6 linked regions of the Homo sapiens genome follow. The protein of the gene in region 6 interacts with the protein of the main gene of each other region in a pairwise test. Each region holds a gene or a part of one and is shown on either strand. Other genes may lie near its edges.

What was found.
Region 1: the proteins of TTC19 (region 6) and UPF3B interact in a two-hybrid assay, tested with the Homo sapiens proteins (one large-scale study listed by BioGRID and IntAct).
Region 2: the proteins of TTC19 (region 6) and SHISA6 interact in binary tests that used the Homo sapiens proteins (3 or more experiments, as listed by UniProt).
Region 3: the proteins of TTC19 (region 6) and EIF4ENIF1 interact in binary tests that used the Homo sapiens proteins (3 or more experiments, as listed by UniProt).
Region 4: the proteins of TTC19 (region 6) and CIMIP1 interact in binary tests that used the Homo sapiens proteins (3 or more experiments, as listed by UniProt).
Region 5: the proteins of TTC19 (region 6) and CCDC33 interact in a two-hybrid assay, tested with the Homo sapiens proteins (2 studies listed by BioGRID and IntAct).

Annotation. Positions count from the first base shown.
Region 1 is NC_000023.11:119,835,964-119,839,463, forward strand, and holds part of UPF3B (regulator of nonsense transcripts 3B), read right to left. Parts: intron 2,565-3,500; coding exon 2,404-2,564; intron 2,089-2,403; coding exon 1,794-2,088; intron 1-1,793. UniProt on the Homo sapiens protein: Involved in nonsense-mediated decay (NMD) of mRNAs containing premature stop codons by associating with the nuclear exon junction complex (EJC) and serving as link between the EJC core and NMD machinery.
Region 2 is NC_000017.11:11,555,713-11,559,212, reverse strand, and holds part of SHISA6 (protein shisa-6 isoform 1 precursor), read right to left. Parts: intron 3,474-3,500; coding exon 3,321-3,473; intron 1,460-3,320; coding exon 909-1,459; 3' UTR 1-908. UniProt on the Homo sapiens protein: Involved in maintenance of high-frequency synaptic transmission at hippocampal CA3-CA1 synapses.
Region 3 is NC_000022.11:31,438,867-31,441,854, forward strand, and holds the end of EIF4ENIF1 (eukaryotic translation initiation factor 4E transporter), read right to left. Parts: coding exon 2,908-2,988; intron 2,003-2,907; coding exon 1,838-2,002; intron 1,256-1,837; coding exon 1,014-1,255; 3' UTR 501-1,013; downstream 1-500. UniProt on the Homo sapiens protein: EIF4E-binding protein that regulates translation and stability of mRNAs in processing bodies (P-bodies). Plays a key role in P-bodies to coordinate the storage of translationally inactive mRNAs in the cytoplasm and prevent their degradation.
Region 4 is NC_000020.11:58,149,475-58,153,701, forward strand, and holds the start of CIMIP1 (ciliary microtubule inner protein 1), read left to right. Parts: upstream 1-1,427; 5' UTR 1,428-1,490; coding exon 1,491-1,558; intron 1,559-4,069; coding exon 4,070-4,151; intron 4,152-4,227.
Region 5 is NC_000015.10:74,274,326-74,277,825, reverse strand, and holds part of CCDC33 (coiled-coil domain-containing protein 33), read right to left. Parts: intron 1-3,500.
Region 6 is NC_000017.11:16,006,324-16,009,823, reverse strand, and holds part of TTC19 (tetratricopeptide repeat protein 19, mitochondrial isoform 1 precursor), read right to left. Parts: intron 3,351-3,500; coding exon 3,256-3,350; intron 847-3,255; coding exon of another isoform or gene 818-846; exon of another isoform or gene 760-817; intron 1-759. UniProt on the Homo sapiens protein: Required for the preservation of the structural and functional integrity of mitochondrial respiratory complex III by allowing the physiological turnover of the Rieske protein UQCRFS1.

The sequences.
Region 1 (3,500 bases), on a different chromosome or scaffold from region 6:
AAGACTCTGTCTCAAAAAATAAACTAAAAACAAAAGAGAACTGAAGAAGACATTTCAAGGAAGCATAATTTGTGGAATTTGTTTAGGTCCTATTAAAAAAAAGACATTAGGCTGGGCACGGTGGCTCATGCCTGTAATCCCAGCACTTTGGGAGGCTGAGGCGGGAGGATCACCTGAGGTCAGGAGTTCGAGACCAGCCTGGCCAACATGGTGAAACCCTGTCTCTACTAAAAATACAAAAATTAGCCGGGCATGGTGGCTTGAGGCTGTAGTCTCAGCTATTCGGGAGGCTGAGGCAGGAGAATCACTTGAACCCGGGAGGTGGAGGTTGTGGTGAGCTGAGATCATGCCACTGCACTCCAGCCTAGATGACAGAGCGAGACTCCATCGCAAAAAATAAATAATTAATTAATTTTAAAAAGACATTAATGAAGCAATTGGGAACATATGAACACTGAATAGACAGGACGTTAAGGAATTATTGTTAGTTTTTTTTGGTGTGAAAATGCTACTAGGGTAATATTAATAGAGTATTTATCTCATATACTGAAGTATTTAAGGAAGAAATTATGTGCAGGGTTTGTTTGAAAATAATCTAGTAGGGGTAGGGATGAAGTAGAATAGAAAGAAGGTTGGCTATGAACTGCTGGGTGATGGGTACAGTACATGGAGTTCATCATACTATTCGATTTTTTTTTTTTTTTTGAGACAGAGTCTCGCTCTGTTGCCCGTGCTGGAGTGCAGTGACGCGATCTCGGCTCACTGCAAGCTCCGCCTCCCAGGTTCACGCCATTTTCCTGCCTCAGCCTCCCGAGTAGCTGGGACTACAGGCGCCCGCCACCACGCCTGGCTAATTTTTTGTATTTTTAGTAGAGATGGGGTTTCACCATGTTAGCCAGGATGGTCTTGATCTCCTGACCTCGTGATCCACCCGTCTTGGCCTCCCAAAGTGCTGGGATTACAGGCGTGAGCCACCGCGCCCGGCCAGTTTTTTTTTTGAGACTGAGTCTCGCTCTGTTGCCCAGGCTAGAATACAATGGCGTGATCTCGGCTCACCTCAACCTCCACCTCCCAGGTTCAAGTGATTCTTCTGCCTCAGCCTCCCGAGTAGCTGAGATTACAGGTGTGCGCCACCACATCCAGCCGATTTTTTGTATTTTTAGTAGAGACGGGGTTTCACCATGTTGGCCAGGCTGGTCTAGAACTCCTAGGCTCTAGCAATCCACCCACCTCAGCCTCCCAAAGTGCTAGGATTACAGGTGTGAGCCACTGCACCTGGCCCATCATACTATTCTCTATTCTACTTTTGTGTATGTTTACAATTTCTATAGTAAGTTAATAAAAGCCCAGCCAAGACTGAAATAAAAGTTGGTCAGGCGTGGTGGCTCACGCCTGTAATCCCAGCACTTTGGGAGGCTGAGGCAGGTGGATCACGAGGTCAGGAGATCAAGACCATCCTGGCTAACACGGTGAAACCCTGTCTCTACTAAAAATACAAAAAAATAAGTCAGGCGTGGTGGTGGGCGCCTGTAGTCCCAGCTACTTGGGAGGCTGAAGCAGAAGAATGGCGTGAACCCAGGAGGCGGAGCTTGCAGTGAGCCGAGATTGTGCCACTGCACTCCAGCCTGGGCAACATAGTCAGACTCTGTCTCAAAAAAAAAAAAAAAAAAAAGTTGCAGATGATTAAAGTTCCCCTTTAAAAATTCTATAATAACAGTGCCCTTTACACTTTCTTTACACTTGCAGGAAAAGGGAAAAAAACCCTCATAAACAAGTTTAATGACAAGCAGCACCTTGTTTCTTATTCGATCTCTCTTGACCACTTCTTCTTTCTTTTCAGTTTTTTCTGAGCTGCCTATTGATTCTGTACTTTCAGCCTTCTTTCCTTTATCCCGAAGTGTGTCTTTCTCTTTTTTCATTTCTTCTTCTTTTCTCTTAAAAGTCTTCTCTTTCTCATAGCGCTCCTTCTGCCTACGGCGCTCTTCTTCTTGCCGCTTCAGCCTCTCTCTTTCTCGAAGTATGCGCTCCTGATCTCGTTCATATTCCCGTTCCCTCTCCCTATAGTCTCTGCCGCTCTCATCTTCAGGTCTGCATGAAAAACAAATCTGAGACAGAACCCTGAAAGATCTTGTAATCACAAATGCAGGAACACTGTGATTCTGATTTGGCCCCTGCAATGAGGTTGCACTTTTAGAGCAGAGTGAAAAATACTAGTGTTTTAAGAAGGAACAAAACCCCAAAACCATTCACCCAGATTAAGATACAAGAATATTCTGAAACTGTTCCTCCTCATCCCCCTGCCCTGCATAAAACAGCTTATCTTAATTCAGGTACATGTCCAGGACATAGCAGCAAAACTAGCATGTATAAATCAAACATAACAAAGAGTCCTTGACTACTGACCTCTTTGGTTTTTCATCTTTAAGTTCGCTATCAGAACGCTTGGGCAATGTACAACTTTGCCCACTGGCTCTTTCATCACTGAGATTCTCTTTGTCCAATTTCTTGGCTTTTTCTCTTTTGTCCAATTCTTTTTCATCTCCTTTTTCTGGCTTCTTGAGCAGCTTTAAAGATAAAATGTTTATTTTTATTTTGAAGGCTGGGACACTATCTTCTATTAAAAACCCAGTATACCAAATATTTAAAATTTAGACTAGACAAAGCCCCCTATCTCTGCAGGTACACTTAATCTTTCAGGTGAACAACTAGTGCATAAGAGTAGTAATTTACTAAAAGGATGCTATTAATGTTAAAGTGTTATCCACTTGAACGAAGTGGTTTAATCACTTTGTGGCAATAGGATCAAGACTCCTTTGGCTTTTATTCTGAGGCAGGGTCTCACTACTCTGTTGCCCATGCTGGAGTGCAGTGGCATGAACATGGCTCACCGCAACCTTGACCTCCTGGGCTTAAGTGGTCCTCCTGCCTCAGCCTCTTGAGTAGCTAGGACAACAGATGCACACCACCACATATGGCTAATTTTTTAATTTTTTTGTAGAGACAAGGTCTCATCATGTCACCCAGGCTGTTCTCAAACTTCTGGGCTCACACCATCCTTCTGCCTCGGCCTCCCACAGTGCTGAGATTACAGGTGTGAGCCACTGTGCCCGGCTTCCTTTGGCTTTAAATGGGTCAACCTTTAAGTGAACCAATGCATACTTCAAAGTATGCTTCTGTAGCAAACCAGCATGTTGATATAACTTAATGGGAAACAGCCCACAAATTTTAAGTGATAGGCAGATCGTTTCTGTTGGGACTGTTTTTATGTAGTACTTGGAATGACAAATACCTTGGTCACCAAAGGAGAGATCCATTGCAGGAATAATTTTGCCTTGAGCCTGAGAATAACATACTTATGATGGTACAATTATCTTGCCATTAGAGATTAATAACAAGAATTATTTGGCATTTGATTTAAAAATCTAAAGGCCTTATACAACCAAATAGTGAAGTTCCATCTCTACTGAGTAGGAACTCTGTATTTAATGCCATATTTACGC
Region 2 (3,500 bases), 4.5 Mb from region 6:
TAGAGGCCTGGAGGGAGTGCGGAGATGATCGGGTGTCTGGGAGGGCCAGCACCCCATTGCTACTCCCCTCTGCGAAGGCTACAGCCAAAACCCCAGAAAACTCAAGGGTGAAATCCTCAGGGCCAGGGAAGGAGCACAGCCCGCTGAAAGGACAGGCCCAGGGTCCTTATGGGCGGGCAGTCAGCTGGAAGGGGGTGGAGTTCCCACCAATGGGGAGGCAGCTGAAGGAAGGGAACCCCTCCTGGTCCTGGAGTTGAGGGGAGGGGCACAGGGCCAGGGTTGGGCCCTCAGGGGTCAGCAAAGGAAGGGTCACTCAGTGGGGACCAGAGAGTTCCAGCAGGCAAGAAAAGAATCATTATTGTGCTTATGGACACAGCAGCTCCCTGGCTCTGAGAGAGCGAGCAGGCAGTTTTTAGGCACTAGGAGATTTCTGTGATGCGGTTCTAGATGAATGAATGAGACCGAGTAGCCTATCCGGTCAGCCCACTGATTGGACCCGCTGGCCCCTTCAAACCCAGGCAGCTTCAGACCACAGTCAAGCAAGGGTCTCTCTGCTGACAGAACCTGCAGCTGAGTCCCCCGGATGGGGAGAAGGAGGCGCGGGACGGAAAGGGAGTTGGTGAAGGTGGTCGGGGGTGAGAATGGGGCCTAGCCCCCTCCTCACTCCCCACTGATTCTTCTGGAGGAGCAAGAGCGATTGCTCTTGGTCCTGGGTCTAAGTGTATTGGACCAGGCCATCGGGGCTGTGTCCCCGGGGGTATGGCTTTTTGGGCAAAGGTGGCCCACCCCCACTTCCTACAGAGGGGACAAGGGAAGGGAGAGTGGCAAGGCTAGAAGCTCTGCTCCTGGCCCCTCCCGGCCCCCGCTCTGCTCTGCCACGCCCAGCAGCCCCGGCCCTGCCCCGCCGGTCACACGGTCACTTCGGTCTTGCTGGCTGTGTAGCAGGTGTGGTGGCCCGGGATGTAGTGCAGCTGCTCCACCGTGTTGTGTCTGCGTGAGGCAAAGGCATGACGCTTGGCTGCCGTCTGGCTCTGGCCCAGGGTGGCGTATGAGTTATTGGAGGCACTGGGATGAGAGTGCATCTTGCTCATGCGGTAGCGGTCCAGCACGGGTGTGGACACAAAGACGTCCGTGTGCGAGATGGCCCTGGACAGCGACTGCTCGGGAAAGGCCGTCCGCTCCGGGGACAGCAGCGGGTCCTGGGAGTGCAGGCGCTCCGTGGAGAGCAGCTGCTCGTCGGACAGGATGCGGTCGTAGGGCATGCTGAACTCATCTGGCAGGCCCCGATCCGGGGACAGGACCCTGTCCTGGGACATGGCCCGGATGGGCCGGCGGGGTCGTTCCCTTGGCAACGGCTTCTGTTGGGACATCTGGATGACATTGAGGGGGAGGGTGCCGCGGGCAGCCAGGTCGGGCAGGTGCCGCCGTCTCATGTAATACTCGTCAGCCTCCTTGTCGGCTGCAGGGGAGAGACAGAGTGAGAGAAGGCAACTGGGGTGACCCTGCAGCCAGGACTCAGATAGAACCCTGCCCCGCTCCTGCTCCATCACAGACCTGTCAACCTTAAGGGATAATACAGTCAAACTCCTTTAGTTATGGATTAGGACAGACGGGTGAAGGGTGTATTTTCCCATTGAATGTGCAAACCATTCTCTGGGGGCTTGTTAAATGCAGATTCTAATTCAGTGGGTCTGGGGTGGGCCCAAGAGTTTGCATCTCTAACAAGCTCCCAGGTAATGCTAAAAGCCTCTGGTACATAGACCACCTTGAGTAGGGATATGTTAAGGGACTTCCTCAGAATCCCCAGTGTGTTCAGGGCAGAGTTGATAGCAAGCCCAAGTCCCTGAACTCCGCCTGGTCCTGGGCCGTATCTACCACACCATGGTCCTGAAACAGAATGACTATCTGTCTTACTAAAACATCCAAATAGCAGCTCTTGAAGCTTCCTGATGAGGTCCAGAGCCAGCCTCCGGCTAGAATAAAGTAAGATGCTCAGACTAGGAAACACTTGTGAAAATGTTTAACTGGTAACTTAGGAACATCGTAACACCTTCTCTGTAGTAACAGGCAACGCATAGAAAGCCAATACATGGGCCTCCAGTCCCCACACAGCCACATAATCAGCCTACACACACTCCACCTGTGCCCATAACGCAAGCTGGTTGGAGTAATCTTACATGTGCGCCTCATTTAGATGCTCCACCTTTCTCTCTATCCAGCAGGCCCTCCTAAGCTCACACTGCTCTCTGTACCCTTGAATTTGCCTGGAACTTGCATGCTACAAGCCTACTTGGACTTGCATGCTACAAACCTACTTGAACTTGCAGGTTACACACAAACCTGCATTGCCCCAAATTTCAGAAATGAGGCCTCCTACACATGGCCTTCTAGATCTCTGCAAAAGTGTGGGAATTCTGTCTGCTCTTCAGTTGGTGCAGCGGGGTCGTTGATGGGTATCCTTCCTCCTGAGCCAAATTTCATCACCTCGGGATGATTCCTCAGGTTATGATAGTCCCGTCTCTAGCTAGAGACTCCACGTTTCACCATGGAGGTGGCTGATGTGGACTTGGGCTGCACTTCTGTCAGGGTAGGTTACCCTGAAGCTTTCAAGCAAATGCTCAGCCCTTGAGGCTCCAACTGCAGTTGGGTGGTCATCAAAAGAGACTCCTGGGAAAATGGGAGGAGAAGGTCCAAGGCCAGAAAGCCAGGGAGGAAGAGCTGTCCTTTAGGGAAATTTTTTGACATTTTTGTATCTTTAACCCATTGATGCCCAGAGTCTCCCCAGACTCAAGAGGCAGAGCTGGCATCACTGGATAAACTGGATTGAACTGGTGAAATGGGGTGTATGCATGGGAGGTGAAGGATCTCAGGTCCTCAAGACACTGTTGGCTGGGTTGGAGAAGGAGCTGGTTTGTGGGCCTCTGGGAGAGGTCTCAGAGAAAGTTCTGGCCATTGCTAGCCTCTATCCAGTATAGGGTATACAGCAAGGAAGGCCCATGGTTTGAAGAAGGCAGTTGCGTGCGGGACTGGGAGAAGGCTTTCTCCCGCAGTTAAACTGGTGCATGAATTGGAAGGCCGTCTCCTATAGGGATGTGAATCTGAGGATTCCATGGTCTTCTTTCTATGTATGGAAAGAATGGGCTCAGTCCATAAGGAACAAAAGCAAAGAGCTTGTCTATTCTCTTCTCTCATCCTGCAACTCCTTCTTTATTCTTGGGATTTGACAGCTGTCCTATGGGGTATGGAGCAAGAGAGTGTGACATAGGAAGATATCTTGGAGCCCCAGAGACAGACCCCAACTTGGGGGAAATTCAACTTACTTAGCCTCTTCAGAGATGAATACTTGCTGGGGTTGGTCTTTACTGCAGACTCGTAGGATGGGGGCAGGTGGGCCAAGTTCTGGAACGAGCGGGAGAAGGAGAGGTCATAGGGCTCGGTGGCTGATGTCAGGATGTTGTTCATCCGTGGCTTCTCTGCAAGAAAAGGGAGGGGTGTTTTGT
Region 3 (2,988 bases), on a different chromosome or scaffold from region 6:
TGTGGGCCACCATGCCCAGCTAGTTTTGTATTTTTAGTAGAGATGGGATTTCACCATCTTGGCTAGGATGGTCTTGATCTCTTGACCTTGTGATTCGCCTGCCTCTGCCTCCCAGAGTGCTGAGATTACAGGCGTGAGCCACAGTGCCCAATTTCCATGGGTTTTCAAGAAAAACTTAACTTACTTAAACTTCAGATCACTTCCTTAAAGGAACATACTGAGCATAGCTTGGCTGGTTAGAAATTAGGAAGACTAGCTTGGGCTACATGGTAAGACCCTGCCTCTACAAAAAATAAGAAAAAAGTTAGTGGCATGTGCCTGTAGTTCCATCTACTTGGGAGGCTGAGGTGAGAGGATCGCTTGAGCCCAGGAGGTTGAAGCTGCAGTGAGCCACGATTGCACCACTGTACTCCAGCCTGGGTGACACAGAGTGAGACCCTGTCTCCAAACAAAATTAGGAAGGGTTTCAGAGAGGAAATAAACACAACAATGTCAGTTACTTCATTCACACACTTAGCATATGCAATTTTAATCAACCAAAAGAAAATCCCAAATGTACAAGTGAAAAAAATCCAAACTGTTGACACAGGCCTAACTAATATCAGCTACTTTTATGTACAGCTGTATAGTTCAAAAAAGCTATCCTATATGTATATACAAAAGTTGTTTATACACAGGTCTGTACATAAGGGTCTATACATTTATTTCCTCAGAACCCTTAGGTGCCACCTCTTGGTGAGGACACCAACACTTCATTCACATATCTTACAAAAAAGAAAGACCATTTCCAGGATTGACAACATTGTGCATCCTGTATTCAGACAATGTACACTCCACTCGACTGGTTAAGATCCTTCCATCATAATGCGGACCACACCAGATGCATGGGTTCCACCAAACAGCTTCACACAGAGTGCTCCAAAGTAAAAGCCCATAAACCAACCCGAGATGAAGCAGGGTCCTGCCCAGTGTGCCACCACAGGTCCGGGCTTAGTTGAGTCTGCCTGCCCTGCTCACTGTCGGTATTCCAATTCATCTACACTGATAACTTTGGCGGGCATGGAGGGCAGGGGTTGCTGTAGCACATCTGAGCCAAACCATTTGGCAAGGCCCACAGGGGAGCTGCTCCTCTGGCTGGGGCGATGCTCCAGCTGGGAGTGCATGTGGGGCAGGCCTGACCGGCTGGGCACGTTCTGAGGGGTTGTCTGAACGCTGACAGCTGCTGCATGGGAACCAGAGCCTGGAGGATGCAGAACTGTGGAGATAAGAAGGGTTATCATTCACAGCATGAGAAGGAAAGTTTATTAGACCCTGCTTCATTCAAACCCTATCCAAAGAAAAGTCTTTACTAGAGGATTTTTTCTAGGGCTTCTTTAGAAACTCCTTTGCAAAATACCAACAATGCCAGAAAACAGTACCATGGAAAGCTGAGCTATTCAGAAGCTACCAGTATTGAAAACCCACCCTGGATGACATGACCGCTACTTCTCATGGCTAAGTAACCACATCACAGAAGCAGCAACATGAACTGGTGAGGGGGTATATACCCTGGGCAGGCCGGATGCTGAACCTCTGTTGGATTCTCAGCCCTCTCTCCTAACAGGCAAAGGAAAAAGCCAGAAAACACTTGGCTTTTCCCACTGACTTTGCAGGAACAGTAATCCCAAATTGCATAGAGGTCAATTTACTTCATCTTATTATCTGGTTACACTTTGTCCCAAACTTAGAACAAGTTAAAGAATGAAAGTGTTAATTCATCTCCACTGGAAACTAGTCCTCAAAGCTTCAAGACTCCCTAAGTCCGTCCCAAACTCACCTGTCACATTCCTGAACCTACCTGAGCGCTGTAGCTGCTGTTGCACCATTGCCAGATGCAGAGGTGTTCCAGGACGAGGGTTTAAGAGAGGGTGACTAGCAGCAGGTAAAGGGTAAAAGGGCTGACCCAGGATGGGGCCAGATATTCCCTGTAAATGACTCAAGTCCATCCCAGGAGGAAGCACACCTGTTGAGCAGAAAAAGCAAGCAGCTGAGTAGTCTTAATGTTACCTGGAAGTTTTCCAGCTTCACTGTACAGTTTTGCTGATCTGGAAGTTTGTTAAGAATGAAGGGCTCTGCGCAGTGGCTCACGCCTGTAATCCCCAGCACTTTGGGAGGCCAAAGCAGGCGGACCACGAGGTCAGGAGTTCGAGACCAGTATGGCCAACATGGTGAAACCCTGTCTCTACTAAAAATACAAAAATTAGCCAGGTGTAGTGGCAGGCGCCTGTAATCCCAGCTACTCGGAAGGCTGAGGCAGGGACCTAGAACTCGGGAGAGGCAGAGGTTGCAGTGAGCAGAGATCGCGCCACTGCACTCTAGCCTGGGCGACAGAGCGAGACTCAAAAAAGAATGAAGAATTCTCTGGCTCACGCCTGTAATCCTGACACTTTGGGAGGCCGATGTGGGTGGACTGCCTAAACTTAGGAGTTTGAGACCAGCCTGGGCAACACGGTGAAATCCTGTCTCTACTAAAATACAAAATAAATTATCCGGGTGTGGCGGCGTGCACCTGTAGTCCCAGCTACTCGGGAGGCTGAGGCAGGAGAATTGCTTGAACTCAGGAGGCAGAGGTTGCAGTGAGCTGAGATTGCGCCACTGCACTCCAGCCAGGCAGACAGAGTGAGACTTCTGTCTCTACAAAAAGGAAAAAAAAAAAAAAAAAAAAAAAGAATCTTCAAGCTAGGTTCCTAATCTTTTAAAGGACTAGGGGATTGACTGGATTGGGCCCACTGCCTGCCAGTTAGATGGGAGAATCTAGTAACATCTTTCTAGGGATGGAAATCTCCCACATTATAGCACTTCATCAGTGCCAACAATTGTCCCCTAGGCCCACAAACTGACGACACCCAAGTCAGGCTGGAAACTCACCAGTTTGGAGCAAACTTGGAAGATGCTGTGGATGTACTCCCTGGGCCAGCATCCTCTGTACCAACCCTGGGTGAAGCTGGT
Region 4 (4,227 bases), on a different chromosome or scaffold from region 6:
CTTGGAGAACAGTCCAGGAAGAAAATCCCAGCTTCCTGCCTAGAGATCTGTCCACCCTCTTGCTAGCCCACTAGCTTGCAGTTGGCTCAGCCGTGGACCTGGGATGTTATATATTCATTAATTAATCAATTCAGCTCCGATGCCAGCCTCTGCTTGCCCACTCACTAATCCAGCTGAGGGACAGTTGGGACCACCCTAATACTGGGCGTGGGCCAGGCATTTCCAACAGCCAAGAAAAGCACCATGTGCTATGAAGGGAAAACACACTAGCTGAGCTCCCCTCTAAACACCACACATAAGTACAAATCTGTTGATAAGGGAAGAGGCCATGGAGATGGACTAGGGAGAGTCTCAGATACCTAACTGGTGGATACACACACTGGCATCCTCCCAGACCAGTGCCCTGGTAATTATCTAGGAGGTGACCTGTAGCTCAACTGAGTCATGCTTCCTCCTCTCTCAGTCCCCCGAGGCAGGCTCTGGACACCTGCTCATCTCATGGCTGCTCAGCCAGAAAAATGTCCTCCTACATCGTGTAGATGATCCCCTTGCTGTTGTCTCAGAGCCATTTTCCAGCTCTGGGTCCACAACAATGGGGGTATGGTAGAAACCTAGGGGGTCAATGAATCAGTCAAAAAACACTGGCTGAGCACCCCAGCGATAGAGTGATTACTGCCTATAGGCAGGGAAAAAGAGTGTGGGGTGGTGGGGTCTGGAGGTAACATTATCCGTGAATTTCATTTAGGGATTGTTACAAAGAGTGGACGCCAACCAAAACGCATATTTTCTCCAAAGACATGTGCAGTAATATTTTAGCAGCACTTTTGTGGTGGCCAAAAACTCAATGCAACGCCCATCAGCAAATACTGTTCAGGAGCAGAAATGGACGCTAGGGCCACTCACAGCAACGGGGATGCTCTCTCAATCATGACACTGGGCAAAGGCAGCCAGGCACAAAGGAGAACATCTGGATGGTTCCACTCACACAAAGTTCAAATCACAGCAAAGCTAATCTTTGCAGAGGGAAGTCAATGAGAGCCAGGGAGGACGGTGACCCTGGGGGCCACTGGGGGAGGCTGGCAATGCTTTGTTTTCTAATCTCCAGGTGACGGTTACAGGCGAGTCCTCTCTTTGACATACTCAATTAAGCTCTGTACACTTGAGCGTCTGTCCACTCGTAGGTGTGCATACTTCCACTGCGGATTTAAACTTTCAAAGAAGTCTAGGGTGTTAGGTCTGGAGGTTTCCCCAAGGTTTTCCACAGATGAGCAAATGGGCCTAGAGGTGGACAAAGGGCCCAGACGTGAGCAAAGGATGGCAGCAAGCCCGGACCCAAGCGACGCGGCGAAAGCACAGCGACCCCACCCTCGCCAGGTGCAGAGCCATTTCCGCCTCCGAGTCCTGCGTTGCCTGGCAACCGGTCTCCCAGGAGACGCGAGACGCTGAGCCCAGGGCCAGAGCTTGCGGGGCGCACAGAGCCCCCAGGCCTCATGGCGCAGAAACCTCTCAGCACCGCGGCGGCTGAACGCATGAACCTTGTGGGTCAGGATGAGATCTGGTAACGCCTGGGATCGGGCAACGCGGTGGGCTCCTGTTCTCACCTGAAGTGTCCACATCTGGGGTCTCAGTTTCCCCACCAAGTCCGGGAAGTGATCGACCACTAAACTCGAGGGGCAGAGGGGCGTGCGCTGAGGATGGTCAGGGGCCTTGAGGAAAGGGGTCAATGTTAGGGACATGAGAGCGACAGGAGGGCCTTTCTCCGTCTCCTTCTCCCTCTCCTGTTGGGCCCACCACGAAGACGTGGGAGATTGGCTTTCAACAATCAGCAGAGATTGGCTTGTTGAAATCCAACTAACATGTTCATGTTTTTTTTTTTTCTTCAAATCTCAGCATCCAACCAGAACGTGTTCATGTTTTTAAGACTGATGATTTTTGTTTGTTTGTTTGTTTGTTTTTTGAGATGGAGTCCTGCTCTATCCTCCAGGCTGGAGTGCAGTGGCGCGATCTCGGCTCACTGCAACCTCTGCCTCCTGGGTTCAAGCAATTCTCTGCCTCAGCTTCCCGAGTAGCTGGGATTACAGGCGCCCACCACCACACCCGGCTAATGTTTTTGTATTTTTAGTAGAGACGGGCTTTCACCATCTTGGCCAGGCAGGTCTTGAATTCCTGACGTCGTGATCCACCCGCCTCGGCCTCCCAAAGTGTTAGGATTGCATGCGTGAGTCACCGCGCCTGGCCAAATTTTTTTTTAAAAAAAGAAAGCAAAAATCCTAATATTTGTTAAATTTGAATGAAGTACATGAAAATCCCTTGATTCTCCTGGGTTTTTAAGTAATATATTTTAACTTTAAAGATACATCCATTTTCTAAAAGATGTATGTCTAGCAGACATTTGTCGTGGATATTTTAATTGGCATGCTATCTGCTACGTATTATTGCATCTCTTTGAAAGTTTAACTCATATGGGAATTTACAGATTTAGATATAAGTAAGTTGTAGTAACAATAAAACATACTTGTTTACCTTCTAAACTTCAGTTATCCTATTTACCCTCTCTATAATTTTTACCATTTCCTTGTAAAACCTCTATTAGTCACTTCATATGTGTCTTTAAATTGTTTTCACTTGATGATTTTATGGAAAACTTCATATCACTCTCATAAATAGAAAACCTTTATCATTTGGCATAAAATACACAACTATTTTTTACTAAATCTTTATCCAAGTGTCCCAATAGGAGATGCTGCCACAGCAGGATCTGTTCCCTCTGTCTGAAATGCCCCTTCCTCTCTTCTTCACCATACAAACTTCTGCTCATCCTTCAAGACCCAAATCTAAGTGACCCCTCCTCTTTGAATAGGGCCCTTGGCTACCTAACACTTAAATTGTAACTGGTCCAAATTGGGTTCAGCCGTTAAGTGTAAACTGCGTGACAAATTACGATGATTTATTTAAAAAAAAAAAAGATTATTTAAGTGACTGTCAGCCGGATGCAGTGGCTCACACCTGTAATCCCAGCACTTTGGGAGGCCGAGGCCAGGAGTTGAAGACCAGCCTGGCCAACATGGTGAAACCCCATCTCTACTAAAAATACAAAATTATCCAGGCATGGTGGCACACACCTGTAATCCCAGCTACTCAGGAGGCTGAGGCAGGAGAATTGCTTGAACCCAGGAGGCGGAGGTTGCAGTGAACCTAGATTGTGCCATCGCACTCCATCCTAGGCAAAAAAAAGGCGAAACTCCATCAAAAAAAAAAAAAAAAAAAAAAAGACTGTCACCTGTTTATTCTTATGTTCTTTTTAATGTAGTTACTAGAACATTTCAAATTGTGTATGCAGCTCATGTTTGTGGCTTATGTTACATCTTGATTGAAATAGACTCTGCCTTAGATGCTCACTGCCCAGGGCAAAGAGTTGACCAGGGTCTCCGAAACTGTGGGGTAGGGATATGCTGATATTGATTCCAAGATAGAAGAAACTAGAAAACTCAAAACGATTGAATGTTTAATTTGATGTTTGCAAAATGTGGCACGTGGGCTCGTCTACTGCAATGCCACTCAGCTCATGGGTAGTTAGATATAAACAATATTAGCATGGAGCAAAAGCAAGGTCGGATTAGGGTGGGGCAAGTGAGGCACTTGCGCTGCAATATTTAGGAAATGCTCCACGTCAAGGTCATGCAGACGCTGTCTCTGCACTTGCAGGAAGCAGGGAGTGAGTGCCTCCTCCACTTTTGCACCTCCTCAAATTTTGAGTCATAAGGGCCTCCAAAATAAGAGATCTGGTACCTAGAAGGCTCCTCAGGCAGAATCGGCCCCCAGACTGGCCCTTACCCGGCATTCCCTCTCAGCCGTAACAGCCAACCAGCATCTCTCTTTCGTTAGCCACGTGTCTCCCTTGCTGGTGGGAGGTGCTCAGCATCAGAGGTTCTCACGCTGTCTGGCTCCTCACTCCGTCCCTGGTGCAGAACCACTGCCCAGTCAATGTTCGTGGAGAATGGAAATGTCCCCCACAGACCCCTTGAACCTTTTTCCGTGTTGCCCAGCACTCAGGAACTTTCTTTTTCAGGAAATACCGTCTGAAGGCTGAATCGGAAGCACGGCAGAACTGGCCCCAGAACTGGGGGTTTTTAACAACCCCTTTTGAGGAGGTAAATATAAATTGTATGAGCCCCAAGGTTACAGAATCAATCATTTCAAAGAATGAATGATTACAAAGTCTATCAC
Region 5 (3,500 bases), on a different chromosome or scaffold from region 6:
AGCCTATGAAGCCAGAGGTGGTGAGTGGCTGCCGGCCCAATAAGGAACAGCCCTTTCCCTGAGTAGTTTCCCAGGGCAAGTCACTTAGGAAAGATCACTTCAGACCTAGGACTGGGGAGGGAGGGTCAGCCTGTCTTGTGCATGTGCAGGCAGGAGTGGTGGGAACTCAAAGTTAGAAGACCTGCAGTCTGACGCCAGAGCCCTGGTGAGGGTACTGTGGCTGATGTGTGTGCAGGATGGGGGCGGGGAGAGGCAGGCATCGCCTGCAGATGCTAATGGAAGGGCCACAGCGGTAGTGGAATTATGGAATGTCATTAACCCTCAGCTGTGATCTTCAGAAAAGCCATTAACCCCCAGCCATGGAGGCAGACCTGCTTCCCCTGGGGACAGAGCCTTCATTCCATGGCCCCTCCACGCCCACCGCCTTATTTCCCCTGGGCCCACCCACATCCACCTCTGCCTGCTCTGCCCAGGCATAGTGGCCGCCATCTGGAGGAGTAGCTGCTGGGAGCAGATGCTGGGCTGGGGTCTCTAGGGATCTAGGACCCCTTGGCTCTGGGTCTGGGTCTGCCTCAACCTTGCTGTGTGGCCTTCAAGTCCCTTCTCCTCTTTGGGACCTACTTTTCCCATCATCCCATGGGGATATGCCTCAAACTCCTCACTTTGAAAGCCTGTTGTAAGGTTAAAGGAGACAATGGATGTTTTGCTATTAAGATGTAAGTTCAACTTCACTGAACTCAGCAAATGTTGACTCTGGGGGGCTTCTCCATTCCAGATGCCTGTGGGGTGCTGTAGAGCCAGACTCTGCCCCCGACCCTGTAGCCCACCATCATCCAGGAGGATAGGGGACAGACAGACAGACAGACAGACAGACACACACACACAAACATGTAGAGTCCTAAGCAAGCTGTGGTTGTGGGAGCTGGGGTGTGCGAGGAGAAAGCCATGACTTCTGACCCCATTCCTCAGGGAGGACCTGAAGGACAAGGGCAGTAGGTAAGGAAGAGGAAGGCCATTCCAGACTGCGAGTGCAGCAGAGGTGGAGGCTGGAGGTGGGAAGGGGCAGTGTGGGTGTGGAGAACAGCAAGCTGTCCAGTGGGGCTGCAGAATGCCTGTATGAGCTGGAGCCATAAGCCAGGAGGCTGGAGGGCACAGGGCCTGTGGACCTGGCTGAGAGTGGGATTTGCCTTGTCGTGATAGTAACAGGGGGCCCAGGGGAAGGGCTAGGCAGGGGATGCCCTGGCTGCTCCTCAGAGAATGGATGGCAGGGGCCTGAGGGGAGGCTAGCACTAGGGCAGGGTCTGTGGGGATGGAAGGGGCCCCAGGAGAGCTTGGGGACAGGCCAGCTGTGGGGCTGAGAGAGGAGGGGATGGTGGTGGGCACACATGGCTTCCCGGAGCTCCACTCCAGCTCTGTAGGAGACCAGAACAACAGGAGCAGCCTGTTGGGCAATGGGCCCCTTCCAAGGTGCCGGGGTAGGAGTAACTTACACGGCCCACCCTATGTTGGTTCCAGCAGGCTGGACCAGGTGAAGTCCGACAGGCCATCTACCCCTTAACTCACCAGTTCAGCCTTTGCCATCATCACCAGGCTCCACTGAGGGCCACCTAGCCCACCACCATGCCCCTCCTTGCCTCATCACCAGCAGATGGCCCTTGGGTTCGGGTGGCTCCGCCTCCATAACCTTCCACATTTATACCAGCAAGGCAGAGCCACACCCCTCCTTAGTGATTGGCTCAGGGAAGTGCATGTAACCCAATCCTGGCTAATCAGACAGGAAGGAGGTCTGCTGAGGGATGGCTGGGTAAGGTTGGTTTCCAGTTGCTCTTTAAAACCACCTACAAGAAGAGAGGGTGCTGCTGGGTGCGGTGCCTCAGGCCTGTAATTCCAGCACTTTGGGAGGCCAAGGTGGGCGTATCGCCAGAGGTCGGGAGTTCAAGATCAGCCTGGTTAACATGGTTGAACCCTATCTCTACTAAATATACAAAATTAGCTGGGCATGGTGGCGCTCGCCTGTAATCCCAGATACTCGGGAGGCTGAGGCAGGAGAATTGCTTGAACCCAGGAGGCAGAGGTTGCAGTGTGAGCCAGGATTGCGCCACTGCACTCCAGCCTGGGGGACAGAGACTTGGTCGCAAAAAAAAAAAGAGAGGCTGCCTCTTATCTGCTGGTCTTTCATTCTATTTGGATGAAGTGCCCCCATGAGCCGTTAGCCAGCTGAAGATGGTAATTCGGGGTGTTGGAAAGATCCTGAGACCTCGAGGATGCTTCTGAGCCTGAGCATCCACCAATTCTGGCAGCATTCTATGTCGTGAGTTGATGTGGTGTGTGACAATAAATATCCTTAGTATTTAAGCCGATCCAAGTTGGGGTTTCTGTTACTTGGAGCCAGATGTGAAAAGGGCAGTGGTGAGGCTGGCCTCAGAGGGGACACTGGCACTAGGGGAGGTACAGCTCTGTTAAGAGTGGAACCCATTTACCTTGGACCCTGGGCCTGGACACTTTGCAAAGATTATCCTTTGAGTTCTCCTAACAGATTGGAATCAATGAGTCTGGAGAAAGGAGCAGCTTACCAAAGGTCATGCAGCCAGTAAGTTACAGAGCTGGGGTCAAACCCAGGTCAAACAGTGCTTTTGCACAGTGACAGTTGGTGAGAAATCACAGCCCCCCAAGATGTCAGAGAGGGCAGGCCCTAAAATTACCAAGTCCAATCCCACCCCCTCAAGTGTAGAGATGAGGGGACTGACGCTCAAAGGGAACAGGGCAGGGGTCTGTGTGAAGACTGAGCTCACGCTGCTGACTGGTGCCCCTCCAGGTATGGCTCTGCCCGGGCAATCCCCACCCCTCCTTACCACAGCAGCCTGCTCCTGTTCTCTCACTGCTGCACCTGGGCACCTCTGTGCCAGCTGCCAGCAAATTCCCAACCTGGCCCAGCTGCCATGGGGTTGGGTGATGTTCAACAGGTGTCCTGCCATTGCTGGACCGGGTCCCACACATGCAAAAGGCACTGGGAACAAGTCTCTGTAGTGAGTGGCACCTCTCCTACCCAGACTAGTTAGGCAGCAAAGGCAGCCAGAGAAAGCCTGGGGGTGGGAGGGGGCACACTCATTAAAGCAGGCAGTGCCTCTTGCCCCTTGGGACAGCCTGCTGATTGGTTCTTAATTTTCTGGGCAAATGCAGGGCCATGTGTGAGGTAACTCTAGGGAAATCAGGCAAAGGATTGGTTTGGGTTTGAAGCCTCTGTCCCCAGGGTCCCCCTTTGTCCCACTCCTCCCCACCACCATCACTCTACCCCATGTCTGAGCCTTCTTCAAATGTCTTTGCCTTTAAATGAAGCCTGGGCTCCAAAGGGGTGTCTTGTTCTATTTTTGCTATGCCAGACATAAGCACTGGTGGGCAGACAATAGGAGGGACCTCCAAAAATCCCTCTGTCCCCCAAGGCCCCTAGGAATGTTGGGACCATCGTGTAGGGCAAGCTGGCAGTGAAGCGCAGATCATGA
Region 6 (3,500 bases):
AAGTACATATATGTCTACAACATAGGTAACAAAATAATTATCCTAGAGCAAGGTTTTATGTAATTAAGTAATGTAATTTTATGTAATTAAGTAATGTTATCCTAGAATAGAGATAGTTGTGTCAATAAAAAGCACGTAAATTTGATAATGGATTTGCTTTGTGCAAAACTGAATAGGTAGGAATTCCTTTTCTAGAAAAAATAAGATGAAGAATCATGTAACACATTTTCTATACTGTGCAACTAGTAAAATGTAAAAATAATATTTATAATAGAAATTAGCTTGCTCTATCTAACAAGAATTCCTTTGCCTGGAAAAAAAAAGTGTTTTCATAATATGTTACTAAATTGTTAAAACTCAGGTTACAAAGTAGGATATACAGTATCATCCCAAATTTATTTCTTAAAATGTAACCCGAAAAGCCGTAGTAATAAATAAAACAGTAGCTCTTTCTTAATAGTATGATTACAGATGATTTTTACTTAGTGCTTTTCTAAACTTTCTTCAGTGTTTACTGGTATTATTTTTTGAATCAGAAAATATAGCTTTACACTCCTAAGAAACCATAGTCAACACTATAAATGAAAGACAGCAAAGGTGTAAATAGTTCAGAAGTGACTTACTTGACAGCTAGACTTGTTTTTACACCTCTTGTGGATTTCCTCAAAGCACTTCCACACTGCACTGAAACTGGATTTATTTGCTGGTCTTTCTTGGGTCTTTTGTTCTTTCATTCAGTAATTATTGAGCCTCTATTATGTGCCAGGCACTGTTCTAGGCACCGAGGATTTAGCACTGAGTATAATGGATGAAGTCTCTATCCTTCTTTGATATGGAAGACAAAGACTAAAAATTTTTAAACAAAAACATACTTTTAGTGGAGAAACACAAGCACACAACACACACACCTCTACTTTTAAGTGTGATGAAGAAAAGTAAAGGAAAGAGGAGTAGAGCAATAGTAAGGTGGGAAGAGATGATAGTTTTAGTGAAGGGAGCACTCTGAGGAAGTGCTATTTGAGCAGAGACCTGAGTGAAGTACGGGAGTTGGCCAGAGAAAGGTAAGAGAGAACAGTCTAGGTAGGGGGAATATCAAGCAAAGAGGCCTTGAGGTGGCACTAAGCTTGGAATGTGCCAGAATAAGACCAGTGTGGTGAGACTGGAACGAGCAAGGGGAGAGCAGCAGATGGCATGGAAGAGGTGGGTGGGCCCAGGTCATAAGCGCCTTACAGGTCCATGCAGGGATTCTAAATTTATTCTAAAGGTGATACAAAGGTACTGAGGTCTTGAAACAGTGATGGCCTGGACCAAAGCAGTAGGGTAATGGGATGAGACATGGTCAGTATGGATATATTTTGATGGCTGATCCAGTATAACTTGCTGATGGATTAGATATGAGGAATGAGGAAGAAATCATGGACAATTCTTAGGTTCTTGGCCAAAGCAACTAAATGAGTAGTGTGCCATTTACAAATCTGGGGCTGACTGGTGACGAAACAAGTTGTGAGCGGCAAAACTGAGACCTATTTTGGACATGTTAAGTATGAGATGACCATTAGACTTCAAGTCAAGATGTCGGGTGGGCAATCATAATTATAAGTCTGCCATTTGGGGGCAAGTTGGGGCTGAAGGTATAAATCTAATATTTAAAACTATGGAACTAAAAGATATCTCCTAGGTGTTGGGGCAGAGAGAAAAGAGAATAGGGCTGAAAACAGCCCTAAGGCGTGCCAACATTAAGAGGTAGGGAAGTCTATTCACCTCACTAGAGAGACCAGTGAGGCATCCCAGAAGCCAAGTGAAAGTATTTTCAGTAGGAGACAGTGATCCCCTAAGTTAAAGCTGCTGATGAGTAAGTTAAGGATTGAGAAGTAACCATTGGATTTGGTGACTTTGATAAAGGTAGCTTCAGTGGAGTGATGAAAACAAAAAAATTGGTGTACAGTGATCCCTCCTACTCCACAGTTTCATTTTCTGGGGTTTCAGTTATCTGCAGTCAACCAGAGTCCGAAAAATATTAAATGAAAAATTCAAGAAATAATCCGTAAGTTTTTAAATTGCATGCCATTCTGGGTGGCATGAAGAAATCTTACACTGTCACACTCCATCCTGCCCAGGACATGAATCATCTTTGTCCAGTGTACCCAAGTTGTATACGGCAGCTGGCCTCAGTCACTTAGCAGCAGTCTCAGTTATCAGATCAACCCACAATGTTGCAGTACTTGTGCTCAAGCAATCCATATTTTACATAATGGCCCCAAAGTGTGAGAGTGGTGATACTGGCAATTTGAATATGACAAAGAGAAGTCATAAAGTGCTTCCTTTTAATGAAAAGGTGAAAGTTCTCAACTTAGTAAGAAAACAAAAAACAAAAAACAAAAAACTGTATGCTGAGGTTGATAAGATCTACAATAAGAATGAATCTCCTGTCTGTGACACTGTTAACAGTATATAGTTATAATTGTTCTATTAAAAGTTATTGTTGTTAATCTCTTACTGTGCCTAACTTATAAATTAAACTTTATCATAGGTACATATATATAAGAAAAAAACACAGTGTATTAGAAGTCGTTTCAGGCATCTGCTGGGGGTCTTGGAACATATTCCCCATGGATAACGGGGGACTACTCTATGTTCAAGAGAGAGTTAGAAGACCACTAGGTACAGAAGAGTTGACTGCTGTATCCCTACCATCTCGGTAGCTCTTGGTATAGAGTAGGTATTGAATAAATGTCAAATCTGAAAATTCTCAATACTTCAACCCAAATTAAGAAACCCAAAATGGTGGAGAGCTAGAGAGCTTCCTGCTCATCCAGTTCTATTCCTAGCCTCCAGAATGAGTGAGGATGGATTGTAAAAACATGAGCTTTTTTTCTCTTCTTTCTTAATTTGCTGTATATCTAGGGCTAAAACGTAATAAGCATTTTGATTGGTAGCTGAACTAAGAGATACGAGAAACACCTTCTCCTTCTGCTCCCCAATTTTCCTTAAGTTATATGTAACTAAAAGTTAACAAATAAATTATGACCATGTTACCAAGGGGGTTAAAAAAAAAACCACCACCAAAACAGCAGTCAAATATTTTAAATAAAACATCTTATTCCAAAACTTCTGCTGATACCTTAAAGACAGACACTTATTTTGCAAAATAGGTAACTTTCCCTCTTCCCAATTTAGATCTCTTTCCATTTCTCAAAAGTGTAAAGTAAAGCCTTTTGTGGAGAAAAGGCAATGCCCAGATAATGGGTTTCCTACCTGACATAATGTCTTCTGCTAATTCCTTTTCTCTTTCAATTTTTTCCTCTAGAGTTGAAATGCAGAATTCATAGCCAGCAACAGCAAATTCCTGTCTGTAAAGCAAAATCAATAATCAGCCATTTACCTTTTCTTCTTTTTTTTTTCTTCCTTCTGTTGAGATGGAGTTTCGCTCTTGTTGCCCAGGCTGGAGTGCAATGGCGTGACCTCGGCTCAGAGCAACCTCCACCTCCGGGGTTCAAGCG